5 separate regions of the Homo sapiens genome follow, and regions 1, 3, 4 and 5 are each linked to region 2. The links come from fine-mapping of genetic effects on gene expression. A gene starts in region 2. Each other region holds a variant in brackets. All regions are shown on one strand. Distances are from middle to middle.

Region 1 (4,123 bases), 37 kb after region 2:
GTCAAATGGTAGTTCTGTTTTGAGTTCTTTGAGAAATCTCCAAACTGCTTTCCACAGTGGCTGAACTAATTTACATTCCCACACCAACAGTACAGTGTTCCCTTTTCTCCACAGCCCCACCAGCAGCTGTTATTTTTGACTTTTTAAATAATAGCTATTCTGACTGGTATGAGATTGTATCTCATTGTGGTTTTGATTTGCATTTCTCTGATAATGAGTGATGTTGAGCATTTATTCATATCTTTCTTGGCTGCTTGGATGTCTTCTTTTGAGAAGTATCTGTTCATGTCCTTTGCCCAGTTTTAATGGAGTTTTTTTTTCTTGTTGATTCAAGTTCCTTATACATCCTGGATATAAGCCTTTATTAGACCTTTGGTCAGATGCAGTTTGCAAGTGTTGTTTCCCATTCTGTAGGTTGTCTGTTTACTCTGTTGATAGTTTCTTTTGCTGTGCAAAAGCTCATTAGTTTAATTAGGTTCCACTTGTCAGTTTTCTTTTTTGTCGCAATTGCTTTTGAGGTCTTAGCCATAAATTCTTTCCTAAGGCTGATGCCTAGAATGGCATTTCCTACATTTTCATCTAGATTCTTGTAGTTCCCAGGTCTTATGTTTAAATCTTTAATCCATCTTATCAAAACAATCTACAGATTAGCACTATTCCTACCAAACTACCAAAGTCATTTTTCACAGAATTAGAAAAATTATTTTAAAATTCATATGAACCAGAAAAGAATCCCAAGAGCCAAAGCAATCATAAGCAAAAAACAAAACAAACAAACAAATAAACAAAAACAAAGGCAGCGGCATCACATTATCCAACTTCAAACTACAGTAAGTCCACAGTAACCAAAACATCATGGTACTGATACAAAAACAGACACACAGACCAATGGAACAGAATAGAGAACTCAGAAATAAAGCTTCACACTGATATAGTTTGTATATTTGTCCCCACCCAAATCTCATGTTGAATTGTAATACCCGATGCTGGAGGTGGGGGTCTGGTGGGAGGCATCTGGGTCATGGGGATGCGGCTTTCACAGCTTGGTGCTGCTTGGCAATAATGAGTTCTCACAAGATGTGGTCATTTAAAAGTGTGTGACAGTCCCCCTACTCTCCCTCGCTCCTGCTTTTGCCATGTGAAGCACCTGCTCTTTCTTCGTCTTCTGCCATGAGTAAAAGCTTCCTGAGGCCTCCCCAGAAGCAGATGCTGGCACTGTGCTTCCTGCACAGTCTGCAGAACCATGAGCCAATAAAACCTCTTTTCATATAAATTACCCAGTCTCTGGCATTTCTTTATAGTAATGCAAGAACAGTGTAATACACACACCTACAACCATATGATTTTTTACCAAGTAGACAAAAATAAGCAATAGGGAAAGGACTCTCCATTCAGTAAATGGTGCTGGGATAACTGGCTAGCCATATGCAGAAGAATGAAACTGGACCCCTACCTTTCACCATAATTTTGGTTTTTGAAAAGAGAGTAAAATTCTTAGATGAGGAGAGTATCCTACACTTACAATAATACTTAGGCAGCATGCTCTAGTGTGCAATGGAATTATTGTTTTAAGTACAGAAAATGCAAAAACAAATCTATGTTCTAATAATATTCTTACCTATTTGGGGTTCATGTAATTTAAATGAAACCTAGTAGATAAAAATGCTATGTAAATATGGGACCTAGTAAATCTAAATATCTGTAGCACTTCAAATATGATGATAATGATAAACCAATCTTAAAATATGAGGAAAGCACCTATAAATTAATAGTGCTGCATTATAGTGCTGTTACTGTGTATACCATTTTTATCATGGCAACTTGTAGATTAAACATAAACAAAAGCTTGTACCCTTCAAAATTGAGATCTATTTTTTCTTCTTTTTTTTTTTTTTTTTTTTTTTTTTTGAGACGGAGTCTCGCTCTGTCTCCGAGGCTGGAGTGCAATGGCATGGTCTTGGCTCACTGCAACCTCCACCTCCTGGGTTCAAGTGAGACTCCTGCCTCAGCCTCTCGAGTAGCTGGGACTACAGGCATGTGCCACTACACCTGGCTAATTTTTTGTATTTTTAGTAGAGACGGGGTTTCACCATGCTGGCCAGGATGGTCTCGATCTCCTGACCTTGTGATCCGCGTGCCTCGGCCTCCCAAAGTGTTGGGATTACAGGAGTGAGCCACCGTGCCCAGCAGAGATCTACTATTTATCCAGAGTTCTTAGTGAACCCAAGGAGAAGGTCATGGAAAAGTAACAAGATCTAACGTGAAACAATGATGAGAGGGAAGGAGTAAAGAAAAGGGGAGGGGAGGAGAACTAATGAGAGTTCTCCAAAATACAA[T/C]AAAAACCTGGCACTTTCAAAAACTGAATATGAAGTTTCTTAAATTGGCAAGGCAGAGTAACGTGCACACACAGATGTACATGTACTGATGGCCACACACACAGGCCAAAGCATATTTGGGGACCCACATTTGGACACAGTTGCAGACTAAAACGTGAGTCAGCTGTGTTTCTACTTCTAGAAAAGTGCTATGACAGAGGCCGGGCGCAGTGGCTCAAGCCTGTAATCCCAACACTTTGGGAGGCTGAGGCGGGCGGATCACGAGGTCAGGAAATCGAGACCATCCTGGCTAACACGGTGAAACCCCGTCTCTACTAAAAATATAAAAAAATTAGCCGGGCGTGGTGGCGGGCGCCTGTAGTCCCATCTACTCGAGAGGCTGAGGCAGGAGAATGGCGTGAACCCGGGAGGCGGAGGGAGCCTCCGTCTAAAAAAAAAAAAAAAAAGTTTGTTTGGGTGTGGTGCTATTGACACAGGAAACAGACCATATATTCCTTCAAAAGCCAGCCTTCAAAAATGCCCTCTTACAGGGAAAAGCAACTGGCTTGTGGTAGAGGGCTGACTTCCGCTTAACAGTGATGTCCAGGTGATAATCTCATTCTCCTCCAGCCTCCAGGCGTCTCAGGAGTATCTGTCTGTTACACTGTTTTTTTCTATTCATAGCTCAGTACAGTTGACACTTGAGCAATGCAGGTTGGAACTGCACACATCCACTTATATGTAGATTTTTTCAATAAATATATTGAAAAATATTTTGGAGATTTGTGACAATTTGAAAAATCCTGCGGACAAACCACATAGCTTAGAAATATTGAAAAAATTAAGAAAAAGATAAGTAATGAATGCATACAATATATGTAGAAACTAATTTATCATTGATTGCCATAAAACATATGCAACTCTATTATATAAAGTCAAAATTTATCATAATACACATGCACTTACAGACCACACATAATCCCATTTGCAATGAAGACAAATGTAAACATATGTAAAGATGCAGTATTAAATCATTACCACATAAAATTTATTGTAGTATTACATATTGTACTACTGTAATAACTTTATTGCCCCTTCCTGTTGCTACTGTGGTGAACTCAAGTGTTGCAAGACTCTGCTTCATGCCCTGTGGCACTAATCATCTTTGCATGAGCAGTTCCTCTTCAGCAAATTGGGGATTGCAGCAAAAAGTGATTTTGGGGTTCTTGTGTATTTTTCATTGTGTTTAGTGCAATACCACAAACCTTGAATAACACCATGGGACCCACAGGAAGTGCCACTAGTGATGGTGGAAATGCTTCCAAGAAGCAGAGAAAAGTCACATTACAAGAAAAAGTTGAATTGCCTGATATGGACCATAGATTGTGGTCTACAGCTGCAGGTGCCCCTATTTCAGACAGATAATTGTATTTTCTATTTTCTATGGGTTTCTTAATACCATTTTTAAAACTTTATTGTAAGAATACAGCAAATAATACATAATACATATACAATATGTGTTAATCACTTATGTTATTGGTAAGGCTTCTGGTCAACAGTAGGCTATTCGTAGTTAAATCTGGGAGGAGTCAAAAATTACATTTGGATTTTTCACCGTATGGCAGATGGGCACCCCTAACACCCACATTATTCAAGAGTCAACTGTATTTGTCAAATATCCATAGCCAGGCATGAAGATTTTAGAGCTTTCCTAATCCTGGACTGTGGTTTCAATTTAAACTTAGAGAATTTGGGCTTACTAGAGTCATTCATTTTGGGGGCACAGATGCTAGAGAGAGGAAGATTTC
Region 2 (4,123 bases):
ACCTTGGCAATTGCAGAATAAATGCATTATAGTTACTAAAGTAAAAAATTAGATATGCCTGTTTGCAGATTGAACTATAAAAATACCATTCAAAGACAAATAGATCTAAAAATAAAATGGAAAAACATAAACACTAATTCTGTAAATATTATACTTAATGCACAACTGAAACAAAATTTGCCAGCTTACTCAATATCAAAATCTATGAACAGTTTTTCTATTTTATATAATTTCCCTCTCCTCTCTCTGGATCTCGCTCCCCAGCTCATTTTTTCTTTTTTTTGCTCTGATTCTTTATACACCTCTGTTGCCTCTGTGATAAGCAGCTTCAAAGATGGTTCCTAATGCTTTATTGGATAGAATACAACAAAAGCGATGAGGTGTTGCTTCCCCAATTACATTACGAAGCATCCGTGGCTTCCATCTCCAGTGGGTTCACTTGCTGTCTGGCTCTAAGGGAATCCAGATACCATAATGCGGGCTGCCCTATGGTGAGGTTTGCATCACTAGGAACTCATGTCTCTGGGCAACAACCAATGAGGTCTTGATCCCTGCCGTCAGCCACATGAGGGAGCTTGGAGCTCGGAAGTGAATCCTCCTGGAGTCAAGCCTTGATATAGCTAGCCCTGGCAGCTGCTTGACTGCAGCCTTGTGAAAGAGACCTTGGGCCAGAGGCACCAGCTAAACTGCCCCTGGATTCCTGACCCAGAGAAAGTGGGAGATGATGTATTTTTGCTTTTTGAAGCTGCTGAATTTGGGGATAATTTGTTATATAGCAATAGAAAATGAGTAACTCTTTTGTATTCCTCTTTGTCCTGGCTTCCCCATTTTGAGGAAAATAAAGTAAATCAAAGTGTAGAGCTGAAATATTCACATGAAAATAATAATAAAGTTTTAAAATTATTTGAATGTCTTGTGTTGACATTCCAAAATATATGAATTCCAAAAATTTATATGTTGAAGTCCTAACTGTCAGTATCTTAGAATGTAACTTTTTTGGAAAAGGGGTCATTTCAGATCTAATTAGTTAAGATGAAGTTATACTGGAGTACAGTGGGCACTAAATCGAATTGGTCCTATGATTGAGTCTCAGTCTTTCAGTGAGCCTGTACCCCTGGGTTTATGACCTTCAGTTGGCTTTTTTCTTCTGCCCTTATTTGGCATAAAAACAAAGCAGGTGGATCACCTGAGGTCAGCAATTTGAGACCAGCCTGCCCAACACGGCGAAACCCTATCTCTACTAAAAATACAAAAAATTAGCCTGGCGTGGTGGCGGGCGCCTGTAATCCCAGCTACTTGGGAGGCTGAGGCAGGAGAATCACATGAACCCGAGAGGCGGAGGTTGCAGTGAGCCGAGATTTCGCCACTGCACTCTAGCCTGGGTGACAAGAGTGAAACTCCATCTCAAACAACAACAACAATAAACAAACAACAACGATGACAAAAAAAGCTAGAGCTGGGATTTTCCCTTTCCCTGTGTTAAAGATTAGAGTGGTGTCCTCACAAAAAGGGAAAACTTGGATACAGGCACACACATGGGGAGAATAGCATATGAAGAGACACAGGGAGAAGGCAGCCATCTATGGGTCAAGGAGAGAGGCCTGGAACACATCTTTCCTTCACCGCCCTCAGGAGGAACCAACTCTGCTGACACCTTCATCTGGGACTCCCACCCTCCAGAACTGCAAAGCAATAAATTTTTTATTTTTTACACCACCCAGTTTATTGTATTTTGTTAGGCAGCCCTAGCGAACTAATGTACATAGAGTTCTTGAGTTAATCTTCACAAATTACTGCAATAAGGTAGGGTCTTTTGTTATGTAACAATGCTATGAAATCATAGCGTTTTCTTAATTAACTTCCGTAGTTTAAGGTACTAAGTTCTGGACACCACGTGTCTTCTTTCTATAAATACCAGGACATGCTCTGTTTTTCAGCACTCATTGGACTTCAGCATGACTACTCAGTTGCCAGCTTACGTGGCAATTTTGCTTTTCTATGTCTCAAGAGCCAGCTGCCAGGACACTTTCACTGCAGCTGTTTATGAGCATGCAGCGATATTGCCCAATGCCACCCTAACACCAGTGTCTCGTGAGGAGGCTTTGGCATTAATGAATCGGAATCTGGACATTTTGGAAGGAGCGATCACATCAGCAGCAGATCAGGTACCATCTCTACCATCTCTCCAGTGTACTGGATTCTATGAGAAAGGAGGGGGTCCTAGGAGACAGGGCCACTGTCAGGGTCAGTTACACTTTTAGATGATATATGTATCAGAGTAGCCAAGAACCTTTATTTTACAGTTAGAATTCTACTTTCCTCTCAAAATTAGAGCAAGGACTTCCCTAAAAGTAAGAACAAAGTTAAGAAAAGAACAATTTGCTCATTATCAAGAAGCAGCAGACCTTTGAGGAACTGGCCATAAATTCAACATCTTTGTTCCCCTTTTCTGGTACAGATGGAGGATGGAGGATAAATGGGTCAGGGACTAGGTGCTATTTTCAGAGTATTAGTGGCCTTCATGTACTCATGTGCTATTAAGGCTTTGCAGGTTTTCGAATAAATTTATAATCTGAAAACAAATTTAAGTTTTCAATTCCTTGCCAGCATGCATTATATACTTCACACTTCATTCTAATTACAAGATAAAAGTATATGTAATGCATTGTGAGTCCTTAAGTTTAGTGAAGGTTTCAGTTTGAAGTTAATCATACAGTATAAATTGTGGTTTACACAAATATTATTTTAAAAGCTATTGATCGATTAGGTGTAGACCAGGAATACATGAAGTGTGATAAAAGTCATGGATAAATGTGTATTACATATATCTATAAATATATATTCTTTTGTGTTGTTGAGTTAAGGTCTCACTCTGTCACCCAGGATGGAGTATAGTGGTGTGATCACGTCTCACTGCAGCCTTGACTTCCCGGGCTCAGGTGATTCTCCCACTACAGTCTCCAGAGTAGCTGGGACCACAGATGCATGCCACCGTGCCCAGCTAAGTTTTGTATTTTTTGTAGAGATGGGATTTTGCCATGTTGCCCACGCTGTACTTGAACTCCTGACCTCAGGTGATCCACCTGCCTTGGGCTCCCAAAGTGCTGGGATTACAGGCATGAGCTACCGTGACTGCCCTATATTCTTATATATACTAATATTTAAAAGGTTATCAGGAGTTCTGATGTTCTTTTTCATCCTTAGTCCAACTATTTCCTTGAAGGTCACAGAGCTTTTTAAGGTGACTCTCTAATTGGAAGGTGCCCAGGTTAGCTCAGGCAGTACTTGTAGGCATGGGACAGTTCAAGTAACCAGTTTGTGGCTCCTCTTTTTCTGAGAAGCAGGAATCATGTTTGCAGGGGAAAGCTAGGGCAGAGGAGGAAATAAACAGAATATTTAAGTTATTAATCAGTCTTGACACAGGCACAGTCATCAGCGAAAGTTCAAGGAGAGGCTTGGTTCCAGGATAAGCTAGGTTTATAGTTAACGACTGCCATAGGAAACAACAATGGCAGGATTAGAAAATTAAAATGCTTGACTAAGCCAGGTGCGGTGGCTCATGTCTGTAATTCCAACACTTTGGGAGGCTGAAGCAGGCGGATCACCTGAGGTTGGGAGTTCAAGACCATCCTGACCAATATGGAGAAACCCCATCTCTACTAAAAATACAAAAATTAGCCAGGCGTGGTGGCAGATGCCTGTGATCCTAGCTACTTATGAGGCTGAGGCGGGAGAATCGCTTGAACCCGGGAGGTGGAGATTGTGGTAAGCCGAGATCTAGCCATTGCACTCCAGCCTGGGCAGCAGAGCGAAACTCCATCTGAAAAAAAAAAAAAAGAGAGAAAAAAAAATGCTTGACTAGAAGCCCAAACCTCACCATTATGTAACATATCCATGCAACAAACCTGCATTTGTACCCTTTGAATCTAAAATTAGAAATAAAGAAAAGAAAAGAAAAAGAAAAAGAAGTGACAGTGCACTGAAAAAAAAGGAAATTAAAATGCTTTGGAAAAGAAAATAAATTATAAAAATATAGAAAACAAAATAAGATTTAAGGGGTGTGGGGGAAGCCCAAATAGTTGTTACTCAGCCACTCAGCTCCTCAGCTCCTCTTGCAGGCCCC
Region 3 (4,123 bases), 56 kb after region 2:
TAAACAAAGTAAGGGTATTTTTTAATGAAAACTTTTACATTTGTTATGGGTGCCTACCTACATATGTACTGAACAAGAATATAAAATGTATTTCTTCCTATAGTTGTGGTTCAAAAGTAGTTTGAAAGCCATTGCTTTAAAGTATTTTCTAACTATAATATGTTATTGGGTTTGAGTACATTCTATTTTTTAAAAATATTCATTTGTTGGGTACAGGTCATCTCTTTTGAAAGCAAGTTGTTTTTTAAATGCTAGTTATTTTCTTTGTACAGGTGTGTAATAGAGAAGTACTTTTCTTTCAAATCAATCAGCAATTAAGTCAGTTTTAATGGACATGTGTTTTCATTTATGTGCTGTTAATGCATCGCTGTGGTTCCTGGTGGCCCACGCTTGGAATTATTTTTAAAGTAGTTGTAATATTTACCTTCTCTATTTAGCTTGCTCACTGCTAGCTTCCTGATGCTGGTTCAGAATAAAAGCTCCTCCCAGTTATATTTCTTGATAACATATTGTTAGCTTGTTTCAGAAAGATTTATTATCAGCTTTTGTTTTGGATTTTAATATTTGCGTCATTCTGTCTATGTGAACTGTGGCCTATCATAGAGCAGCAGTGGGCTCTAGCCAGCAGCAGGTATCCAGGAGATTGATGCAGACTGGTCCCAAAGGCAGTGTTCCTGCTGTCTGCTCATCCGCTGACTGTGTTCACTCTTACCTGAGCAGGTGGGTCTGAATTTGCTGAACAGCCAAACCAAATCCTAGAGACTAACCCAAAGGCCTAAAGTAGTATTTTACAGGAAGAATGCTAAAGATAATGAGATTTATCAATGGCTTGGTACTTATCCATCTGTTAAAATTTAGGATTATTTAGTGCGAAGATTAACAAGGGTTTTCTGTAATTTAGTTGCTTAGTAGCCCCTTTAGCAAGAGAAGCTAAAAGAATGGTTATATATTTTTAAATAGCTTGCTTTACATGTCTTTTAAAAAGTGTTGTTTCTCTTTTATTAAAAATTCATTTATGGAAAGCTAGGACATTTGAAAAGTTGAAACTTTTAAAAAATCTCCTTTTCTTGTTAATGAAGAAAGAAATTCTATGCTGTGTACATTGGCTAGTTTTAACATCATGTAAGGAGTCCTTATAGATTTTTTTAGGTTTTACAATTACAATATGTCTTATTGTTACTATATACACAACTAAACTGCAAAACCATAATCTTATTTGCACAGATATTATTTGTGCAAATATATTTGGTAGGAAAAATCCCAGTACATTTTCAAATGTATTGTGTCATATTAACATAATCCCTTTCAACTTAAACTAAATTCAGTGTGTGTGTATACCTGCCATATATTAGATCAATTAACTTAAGAACCTTTTAGTTACATTACCTAAATCTGATTCATATTACTTTATGCATGTCAAAATAGCAGAAACACTTTCATGTATAGTACATTTATCATAATATTGCTGGTGACTGTTTTACTCTTATTTGTTGGTTTGTGTTGATGTAGGAGCAAACAAATGAATTTCGTCCCATTTCCTGTTTCTTTGAAACAGAAATGGTTCACTTCCAGCAATGTTTCATCTCAAGAACCATGACTTAAACATTTAAAAATGCTGTTTCCCCTCACCCTGGTCTCTTTCCCCCTTTAGAAATAAGTATTTTTCAAACATATTTTAGTATGTTTATTAAAAATACTGGAATTACAGAGCTACAAGTATAGTTTTGGAGTAAAATTATTATTGTCTATTTTACATTTTATAATAGAACAAAAACAGGAAATGAGTTCAGTTCAGTAATTTAGTAAAAGTATAATTTTAGTACAAAGGTAAAATAGATAAATAAATCATGCAAAGAATTATACAAGTCAAAGAAACAAATAATACAAATTTATTGATAATTATTCACCAATAGTTTTTTAAAATGAAACTCAATTTATAAACAATACATTTACTTTTATTAAAAAAATTTCTAGTTATGAAAGTGAAACAGTCCCATAGAAAGAAACTTAGAATATGTCATAGAGATGGAAAAGTAAATAAAATTCACCCATAATTCACCACCCAGGTAAAAACGTTGCTAAAATTTTGTGTTATTTTCTTTTTGTTGTTAATCTTTTTGTGTGTTTTTTGAGTTTCAATCTCACTATCTCTGAGTAAACAATATTGAGAATTGGAGTATTCCATTCCATACTTATTTCCCATAATTACATAAATGCATGTGAGTGTGTATCCCTATTTATGATATTTTTAAATACTCTGCAAATGTTTTCTACTTAACAATATATTGACATATGATATTTTAGAATACATAATTGTATATTTTTAAATAACCTGTAAATGTTTTTTCTTTACTTAAAAATATACTATTGACAACTTTCTGTCTCTATATAGAAAGAACCAGATCATTTTATTTAACATCTTGTTAAATACATATCATATGTCTACTGATATATATATATATAT[ATG/G]TAAGTCTGACATCAAAGTTTAGATTATTTTACTTTTTTCTTTCGTTGCTATTACAAAAACAATTGCACTGAACGGAGCTGATTCAAACAATGTGAGCATTTTAAATTTTAAAAAAATGCTGCTAGACCAACTGTCCAAAATTTAATTATAACTACGCATCTTTCCATCCAGTCAAGAAGTTTAACTTGCCAGCCCCTCAGCACCCCTGATAACAACTAGGTGTTATTAAGATAGTTAGAATTTAAGTTTCAGGCCAATGTTAAGTGTTTCCTTGAAATTTATTTGTTTTTCATTTTGAATGTTCTTTTAACAAGCATTGTATTGTGTCATATTAACATAACCCCTTTCAATTTAAACTAAACCTTACTTTATATATTAATCATTGTTGTTGCTTTTATTTTTCATCTCTTGCTATTTATAAATTTTTGTTTTGATTTAATTTTTATATTGCTAGAGTATTTCCTAGAATTTCTCAGCAGGTGGTCATAAATACATTGTTACTGTCATTCTTTTACTCTTATATGATCACCCTTTTGACTGCATATAGGATTGTTGAATTGTCATCCTATTTCCCTCATAATTTCTAACCTCATTCTATTGCCTTCTGGCTTCCAAAATGACAGAGGAGATGTCCTATGCTAGCCTGAACTTCTTTCCTTTTAAAATAACCAGTTCTTTCTATTTGGGTGCTTATACAATCTTTTTCCTTGATACTCAGAATTCAGAACCAGGCTAAGTATATGTGCATGAATTTTTTTTAAGGTTCTATGAGGCACAGAAATGAAAATGAACTCCTCAGTTCATTTGTTCATTCATTCAATTCTTTATTCCCTTTTGTGCTCAGTACATGTTGTAGATATTTTCAGGCCTTGGAGCTTCAGCAGTGAATAAAACACATGCCATTCCCTTCTGACATCCTACTTCTATATATATATTTCATCTTATTGTCTCTCCCTCCCCCTATTTATCTCTGTTTCTCCCTTTCCTTACCTTCTGCCTATAGTGACCCATTAGAGTGCATCTATTTAAATTTAAATATATGTGTATTCTTGACACAGCACCTTGATTTCCCTTGCATTACTCTTGGATGTTTACTTAGTTGTTGATGAACACTATCTACAAGATGCTATTATAAGCATTTTATAAAAATTAACTCATTCCAGCTTCATAAGAGCTCTAGAAAATAGTTTTTTTTGTTTTTGTTTTCTTTTTGTTTGGTTGTTTTTCACATGAGGAAACTGCAGCCTCTGGAGGCTGGGTAGTATGTTCAAGGTCACAGGACCAGTGAATGGCCCAGCCAGGACTTGAACCAAACAGCTGAGCACTAAAGGCCTGCTCTTCCTCACACAGCTCCAACCTCACAAGGGCAAAGCGTTCGATTTCCCCTGCTTCTTGTCCCTCTGCAGTCACCATCTTCCCCATCTCTCTAACTAGTACCTCTGTTTTTCAAGCTGCTCAAGCCAAAGCCCTGTTACTTCCCTCCATGACTTTCTCTAAACCGACAATCAAGGCTATCTACAATTCCTGCTGGCTGTTTCTTCAAAACATGTCCAAACGTGATCTCTCCTCTCCACCCTGACAAACATTGCTGTGCTCCAAAGCACCATCTTCTCTCACCAGGTGACAGCTTCCGTTGCAGCAGCTCCCTAATTGATC
Region 4 (4,123 bases), 25 kb before region 2:
TGTCTTCAAGAATTCTGTGACATCTTATATTGTTTGAATATGGATTGAACAACCCTGCTAAAAGCTTTGATCAGTTATGTTATAAACCTTTGCTTCCCTGTTCTGTTTCATTTTGCATTTCAGAAATTAATTTTAAAAATACTGCACATCTACTACCATCTGATCTTTGACAAACTGGACAAAAACAAGCAATGGGGAAAGTATTCCCTATTTAATAAATGGTGCTGGGAAAACTGGCTAGCCACAGGCAGAAAATGGAAACTGGACCCCTTCCTTACACCTTATACAAAAATTAACTGAAGATGGATTAACGACTTAGATGTAAAACCCAAAACTATAAAAACCTTAGAAGAAAATCTAGACAATATCATTCAGGACATAGGCACAAACAAAGATTTCATGACAAAAACACCAAAAGCAATTGCAACAAAAGCAAAAAATGACAAGTGGAATCTAATTAAACTGAAGAGCTTCTGCACAGCAAATGAAACTATCATCAGAGTGAACAGACAAACTACAGAAAGGGAGAAAATTTTTGCAATCTATCCTTCTGACAAAGATTCAATATCCAAGAATCTACAAGGAACTTAAACAAAAATTTTGCAATCTATCCACCTGACAAAGGCCCAATATCCAGAATCTACAAGGAACTTCTTTTCCACAAGAAAAAAAACAAACAACCCCATTAAAAAGTGGGCAAAGGGCATGAACAGACACTTCTCGAAAGAAGACATTTATGCAGCTAACAATCACATAAAAAAAAAAAAAAACTTAGCTGGGCATGGTGGCTCATGCGTGTAATCCCAGCACTTTGGAGGCTGAGGCGTGCTAGTGCTATGATCAATACAAGGACCAGAAATGGATCAATTCTACCTTGGAAGACCAGAAGGATGTCACAGACAAGCAGAATAAGATAATCAGGGCATTCTCAATAGAGTTAGTCATGCATGCAAAGACATGGAAGTATGCTTCAAGCAGTGTTTAATGTATTACGGAGGAAGAGGATGCAAGGAGGAAGGATAAGGACAGACGATGTAAAAAATAAGACTAGAGAGATAGTCCAGAGTCAGTGTTGAAACACAAATGAAGTCTAGACTTTATCCAGAAGCTGAGAGAAAGACACATTGAAGAGTTTTAGAGTCAAGTAGCCATGAGGGACTAAACAGTTTAAAAACTAGATAAATTTGATGGCTTTTTGAAGGATGGAGTGGAGAAAGAAGTTCTAAAGGCAGAGTGGCCAGGAAGGAGCCAGTTGCAGCAGTCCCCTCAGGGTAGTGGAGACAGTACAGGGACATGCTTGAGGAACAGCAAAGAAGTCAATGCAACTGGAGCCGAGTGAACATGGGAAAAGTAGTAGGAATTGTTAGAAGTGACAGCTTATAGTGGTTTTTTTAGGCATTGTAAGAACTTGGCCTTTTACTCTGAGTAAAATCGAATGCCACTGATAGGTTTTTTTGTTTGTTTATTTGTTTGTTTGTTTTTTGAGATGGAGTTTCACTCTTGTTGCCCAGGCTGGAGTGCAATGGTGCAATCTTGGCTCACTGCAACCTCTGTCTCCCGGGTTCAAGTGATTCTCCTGCCTCAGCCTCCTGAGTAGCTGGGATTACAGGTGCATGCCACTGTGCTCAGCCAATTTTGTATTTTTAGTAGAGACGGGGTTTCTCCATGTTGGTCAGGCTGGTCTCAAACTCCTGACCTCAGGTGATCTGACCGCCTTGGCTTCCCAAAGTGCTGGGATTACAGGTGTGAGTCACTGCACCCAGGCCATTGATAGGTTTTGAGCAGAGGAATGATATGATTAGTCTTATATTTTGATAGAATGGCTCTGATTGTTGTTGTGCAAAAGTAGAAGTAGTGGTAC[A/T]AAAACCAGGTGCAAGGGTTTGGGAATAATCCAGACTAGTGATAATGACGGCTTGGACCACAGTTGGTGTAGTAAAAGACCACTTGCTTGAACGTGTGTAGAGTGAGAGAGACAGAAAGAAGTAAGGGTGACTCCAAGGGTTTTGGCCGGAACAAAAGGGAGATGAGAGAAGCCGTTAATTGAGATCTGAAAGACTGCTGGTGAAAGAGCATCAGGAGCAGAAGGTCAGGAGCTCAGTTTTGTTCATGTTGATCAGATAAGCCTTCATACAGTCAAGTGGAGATTTTGAGTAGACTGTTGCCAGATATAAGAGTCTAGAGTTCTCAAGAGAGGTTTGAGGTAGATATATAAATCTGTGAGTCACTAATATTAAATATATAGATGGTATTTAAAGAGATGAAATGGATGTAATCACCTAGGAAGTGAGTGTAGATAGGAACAGAAGACTTCCAAAGGTTGGGCTCCAGGGTGCACCAGTGTTGCCAAGTCAGGGATGATGAGTAGAAACCAGAAGAAAAAGTCCAAAGAAACAAAACAAAGTAAACAAATACAAAAACTAAGAAGAAAGAAAGAGGAAAACTAAAAGGGTGTGAAGAAGAAAGTACATTAAGAATGGGATAATGGCAGCTTTGTCAAGTACTACCAAGACATTGAGTAAGATGACATTGAGAATTGACCATCAGACTTAGTAATAGGGAGATTAATGGGAACTGGACAAGGCAGTGAAGTCATGGGGGTAAAATCCTGTCCATTGGGAGGACAGGAATTGAGGCAAGGAGTACATACCATCGTGGAAAGGAATTTTGTTATAAAATAAAGCTGAGAAATGGAGCAGGAATTGGAAGGGGATGTCAGATCAAAAGGCTTTTTTTTTTAAGATAGAAAATGTTACAGGATAGTTGTAGAATATATAATAGGATATTTGTGTTTTCTTTATTGTATCCAATAGAGAAAGAAAAATTGATGATAAACAGTAATGGGGCTGGGCACGGTGGCTCATGCCTATAATCCCAGCACTTTGGGAGGCCGAGGTGGGTGGATCACTTGAGGTCAGGAGTTCTACACTAGACTGGCTAACATGGTGAAACCCTGTTTCTACTGAAAATACAAAAATCAGCCAGGCATGGTGATGTGCGCCTGAAAGCCCAGCTACTCGGGAGGCTGAGGGAGGAGAATTGCTTGAACCTGGGAGACGGAGGTTGCAGTGAGCCAAGATTGGGCCACTGCACTCCAGCCTGGGTGATGGAGCAAGATTCCATCTCAAAAAAAAAAAAAAAAAGGCCGAGCATTGGTGGTTCACGCCTATAATCCCAGCACTTTGAGAGGCCGAGGTGAGCAGATCACTTGAGGCCAGGAGTTTGAGACCACCCTGGCCAACATGATAAAACTCCATCTCTGCTAAAAATACAAAAATTAGCCAGGTGTGGGGGGCAGATGCCTGTAATCCCAGATACTTGGGAGGCTGAGGCAGGAGGATCTTTTGAACCTGGGAAGTGGAGGTTGCAGTGAGCCAAGATTATACCACTACACTCCAGCCTGGGTGGCAGAGTGAGACCCTGTCTCAAAAACAAACAAACAAAAAAATAAACAAAGTAAGAGAGAAGAACTTCTAGAGCAATGTCCTTGGGATCCAGTGCTCAAAGATAGGGGCTAGACTTAAGTAGGGTCAAGAGGAGTCATTTACAGTAAGGATGGGGGGAGGCAGAATTTACAGGTACAAATGGCTGGCAGGTGGGTTGATACTTGGTGGGAGCTTGTGGAAAGGAGTTCTTTTGAGTTGGATAAATAGGCCTGAAGTTCAGAACGGAAGTTTGAGCTAAAGATAGAGACACAGTCATTATCCTTTTGTAGAAGATAGTTGAAGGTATGAAGTAGAAAAAAACCTGGGGCCAGGGGAGAGGGTAGAGTAAGGGACTGAAAGACAGTGAACAACAATGTGGCTACTGGCCATAAGTGCATTAAGAGTTTAGAGAAGGGAATAGCAACAAGACTGGAGAGGCAATGGATTTGAGCTCGAAAGGCAGGATTTGGTCAGAATCATTCCAGGATCAGAGCAACAGTGATCATGTTACAATAAGAAGAGTACTTTTAGCTAAGAACACAAAATATAAAATGGAACCAAGAGAAAGAAGGCTCTTACTGTCTGCTTTGATTCAATATATGCATGGGAAGTATCTTAATTAATGACAGCAATGGTCAAGGGAACTCTAATGGATTACAGTATTGAGGGTTAGGGTGGGAGGAGTGGGATCAGAGAGGCTG
Region 5 (4,123 bases), 130 kb after region 2:
AGCCACACATTCCCACATGCTCCTGACTTAAAAATTGACTGAATTCTCTTGACTTCCAGTTACACATGCTAATTCAATACTAGCTTGAAAAAATGTGGCTTTAGCCTGAAAGCACAGCACAGCTACTAAATGACACTAAAGAAAGCACAACTTCAAGCAGGGAGACATTTCAGTGCTTGGGTGTGTTAAGGGCAGCTTTCTAGATAACATCAACCATCCTGAGGAACAATCAGTAGCTTAGATGGGTTTGACTCAAGTCCTCATGTAGTTAAGCGTTGGGAAAGGAGAATTTATTTCATTGACCTGTTGCTTCCGCAACTCAATCCAAGCCCTATTTCTGTGTGTTCTTTTATTTCAGGAAAAAGACATTAGGAGAAAGAAAACTCCCCAGGTCTCAGCACTACTCTTTTCTGTGAGTCCCAGGTAGTTCATGTTCTGCTGCTACCATGGTGCTGGTTACCCTGGCCTCTGACACTGAGTTCCACCACAGTCCTCACTACTCTCTTTCTCTCCCCAAGTTTTCAAACTGCTCCACTTTGTACTCCAGGTGACTCTCCTGCAATATGTGGCAACTCAGTCAGGCAAACTTAGATCATCTGCTTCCTAACTGATGGTCTTTTGATGGTAAATGTAGCATGGCATTTGAAAGTTTGTGTATGAAAGTCTCGGGGTAGAACTCTGTACAATGCCACTCTCTGCTACATTCTGACACTTACAGACACTCCTGATCCTAGTCATTTGGTGCATTCCAGACCTGTCTTTCATTCATGCTTTCAGGTGAATTCCTTGCCTGCTTGGAGCTCATTTTCCAATACTGCTGCCCCTCACAGTGCTTGGGGTAATTTTTTCTCTTTTTGTTGTTTTTGATGGTTTCCATCTAACCCCATGATCAAATCTGTGAATTCCAGTCCCAGTGTTGGCTTGACCATCTCTCAAGTAACTTGGGTTATCATCAAAATCGGCTTCTGAGAGCTAGCCTTAGCACACCAAACTCCACTGTGGGTACACAGAGAAAGCCCTGCTATGTTACTCACATGTGCTTGTATTAGAAATTCTAGGACTGGAAGGAACTTTAGTGGCCATGGATTGGAGTTACATTATTTCACATTAAGGTCCAATAAGATAAACTGACTTGTCTGAAGTCCCACAAACTATGATTGGCAGAGACAGGACCTAGAACCCAGAAACCTAATGTTTGGCCAGCACAATTTCCGTCACCTCAATCTTGCTTTGAAGGAGGATTACACAGTAGGTGAAAGTAGGACCTTTATAGTTAACAGAGCTGGCTCCAAATCCCAGTCTGCCTCTTACCAACACTGCTCGGGGCCATGCTGCTTGAAATGTGTAGGCTTCAGAAAGAGTGCAAGCTGGAAAATAGCTTAGAGGTTTCTCTGAAAATGATTAGCAAGCAAAGATATGTTTAATAGTAACATGAAACTCATGAATGGTTCAGATCTCAGGTATCAAATATTTTCCAATAAACTTTTTTTTTTTTTTTTT[G/TG]AGACAGTCTTGCTTTGTCACCCAGGCTGGAGTGCAGTGGCGTGATTGCAGCTCACTGCAACCTCAGCCTTCAGGGTTTAAACGACTCTTGTGCCTCAGCTTCCCAAGTAGCTAGGATTACAGGTGTGCACCACCATGCCAGGCTAATTTTTTTGCATTTTTAGTAGAGATGGGGTTTAACTATTATTGGCCAGGCTGGTCTCTAACTCTTGGCCTCAAGTGATCCACCTGCCTTAGCCTCCCAAAATGCTGGGATTTTACAGGTGTGAGCCACCATGCCCAGCCCCCATAAACTCTTTAGGAAGATTTTTTTTATTTCATAGAGTGAGTCCTTTGAAATAGTTTTCTATGATTGAGTTTTATTGATTGAGTTCTAAGAATGAAAAGGCTTGCTGAACACTAGATGTTAAGAGATTTAGTGGCACATTCAACAAGTCTTCAGATAAGGCCAACCTAGCTATTTTATTCTTTTAAAAATGCATCTAAGGCTGGGCACAGTGGCTCAAATCTGTAGTCCCAGCACTTCAGGAGGCCAAAATGGGAGTATTGCTTGAAGTCGTGTTTGAGACCAACCTGGGCAACAAAATGAGATCCCTTTTCTACAAAAATAAATTTTTTTTAAAAATTAGCCAGGCATGGTCGCACACGCCTGTAGCCCCAGCTACATGGGAGTGTCACCTGAGCCCAGGAGTTTGAGACTGCATTGAGCTATGATCATGCCACTGTACCCCAGCCTAGGTCACAGCAAGACCCTGCCCCTCCCCAAAAAAGCTTATAAAAAGAATGCATTTTTCCAGGCTTAATAACTAGGTAATGAGTTGATAGGTGCAGCAAACCACCATGGCACACATTTACCTATGTAAGAAAACTGCACATCCAGCACATGTACCCCAGAACTTTAAAAAAAAAAAAAAGAATACATTTAATGTATCCTCCCAATGCTGGGGAATCTATTTCTATTTTATTTATTCACTCATTTATTTACTCAACTGACCAAAGTAAAACAACAACATAGGAGCAAAGAAATAAAACACCAGTACAAACTGTCTGATTTACTCATAGTGATACTTCAGCAAGTATCTGACCTCCTGCAGCTTACATGTCATTAAGAGACAGACAGTTAAAACACAAGAAAATAAACAGATGAATAAGATTGTAACACATTCTGATATGTACCATGAAGGAAATGATATAAAAACAAGGTGAGTAAAAGAATAAAACATGGATAACAACATTAGCCGAGATCTTGATTTTTCTGAGGGAGCGATGTTAAAGCTGAGACCTGTGTAAGGAACCAGCTCCGTGAAGATCTGAGGACTGAGTGATCCAACAGATGAAAAACCCTGTGCGAGTCTCCTGAGCGACCTAGTACAACAGATGGGATAGCCAGTGCACAGCTCCTGAGGCATCCTGTGGGGGGTAGCCGAGGGGCTGGGATTGGACAAATATATTTGGAGCATAACAAGTAAAGGGAGAGCAGAATAGGTAGTGGGTAGAGAGTTGTGCGGGGCTAAGACTATGCAAAGCCTCATAGATCAGAATCACAGAGTTAGAATTTTATTCCAAACACAACAGAAATTAGGCTTTGGGTTTTGAATTATGAATTCACCATAGCCCACAGTGACCAAGATCTGATGCTGGGGCTGGTCAGGAGTCTATACGACCTAGTGGGTTTTTCTGTGTTTGCTGCTGTGGTTAAAATTAGCCATAGCATCCCCTGCCCTCCATCTCATAGCTCTGCATCGTGACTCCATTAGCCATCTGGTAGAGGGCAGCCCTACTAGTGAAATATTAATTGTTCTTGCATTTAAGTCTTTAATCTGTCTTGAGTTAATTCTTGTATAGGATGTAAGGAAGGGGCCCAGTTTCAATTTTTTTGCATATGGCTAGCCAGTTCTTCCAGCACCATTTATTAAATGGGGAATACTTTCCCAATATCTTGTTTTTTTGTCAAGTTTGTTGAAGACCAGATGATTCTAGATGTATGTTTTCATTTCTGAGTTCTCTATTCTGTTCCATTGGTCTATGTGCCGGTTTTGTACCAGTACCATGCTGTTTTGGTTACTGTAGCCTTGTAGTATAGTTTGAAGTTGGGTCGCTTGGTGCCTCTTTTGTTTTGTTCTTTTTGCTTAGGATTGGCCTGGCTATACGAGCTTTTTTTAAGTTCCATATGAATTTTGAAATCTTTTTTTTCTAATTCTGTGAAGAATGTCAATGGTAGTTTAATGGGAATAGCATTGAATCTATAAATTGCTTTGGGCAATATGGCCATTTTCATGATATTGATTCTTCAGTAGGAGCTGAACAATGAGAATACAAGGACACAAGGAAGGGAGCATCACACACTGGGGCCTGTTGAAAGAGGGTAGGGTGGGGGCAGAGAGCATTAGGGAAAATAGCTAATGCATGCTGGGCTTAATACCTAGGTGATGGGTTGATAGGTGCAGCAAACCACCATGGCACATGTTTACCTATGTAACAAACCTGCACATCCTGCACATGTACCTTGAAATGTAAAATTAAAAAATATGCCTTTACATGTTTCTACTGATTGCTCCAAGACAATAACAACCAGGCTATTGCAAATTCTGGGGACTCTGTCCCTGATGCTGACCCACTGTGT

The links. PIP is the estimated chance that this variant, and not a neighbour inherited with it, causes the effect. A credible set is the group of variants that fine-mapping cannot tell apart.
Region 1: its variant is the best candidate, but not a certain one, in a credible set for the expression of VNN1 in whole blood (INTERVAL, PIP 0.68).
Region 3: its variant is the best candidate, but not a certain one, in a credible set for the expression of VNN1 in whole blood (INTERVAL, PIP 0.74).
Region 4: its variant is the best candidate, but not a certain one, in a credible set for the expression of VNN1 in whole blood (TOPMed, PIP 0.86).
Region 5: its variant is the best candidate, but not a certain one, in a credible set for the expression of VNN1 in whole blood (INTERVAL, PIP 0.52).

What each region holds. Positions count from the first base shown.
Region 1 is chr6:132,675,342-132,679,464 of GRCh38, reverse strand. It overlaps the pseudogene HLFP1. Among named protein-coding and RNA genes, the nearest start is that of TAAR1, 18 kb to the right of the region's middle. The variant T/C (reference allele first, on the strand shown) is at 2,337.
Region 2 is chr6:132,711,868-132,715,990 of GRCh38, reverse strand. It overlaps VNN1 (vanin 1), which reads left to right and starts at 1,936. Exons shown (of 7, transcript NM_004666.3): 1 at 1,936-2,165. The coding sequence starts at 1,956.
Region 3 is chr6:132,655,727-132,659,849 of GRCh38, reverse strand. It overlaps TAAR1 (trace amine associated receptor 1), which reads left to right and starts at 668. Exons shown (of 2, transcript NM_138327.4): 1 at 668-720. The variant ATG/G (reference allele first, on the strand shown) is at 2,465.
Region 4 is chr6:132,736,795-132,740,917 of GRCh38, reverse strand. No RefSeq gene overlaps it. Among named protein-coding and RNA genes, the nearest start is that of VNN2, 19 kb to the left of the region's middle. The variant A/T (reference allele first, on the strand shown) is at 1,862.
Region 5 is chr6:132,577,012-132,581,134 of GRCh38, reverse strand. No RefSeq gene overlaps it. Among named protein-coding and RNA genes, the nearest start is that of TAAR6, 8.8 kb to the right of the region's middle. The variant G/TG (reference allele first, on the strand shown) is at 1,501.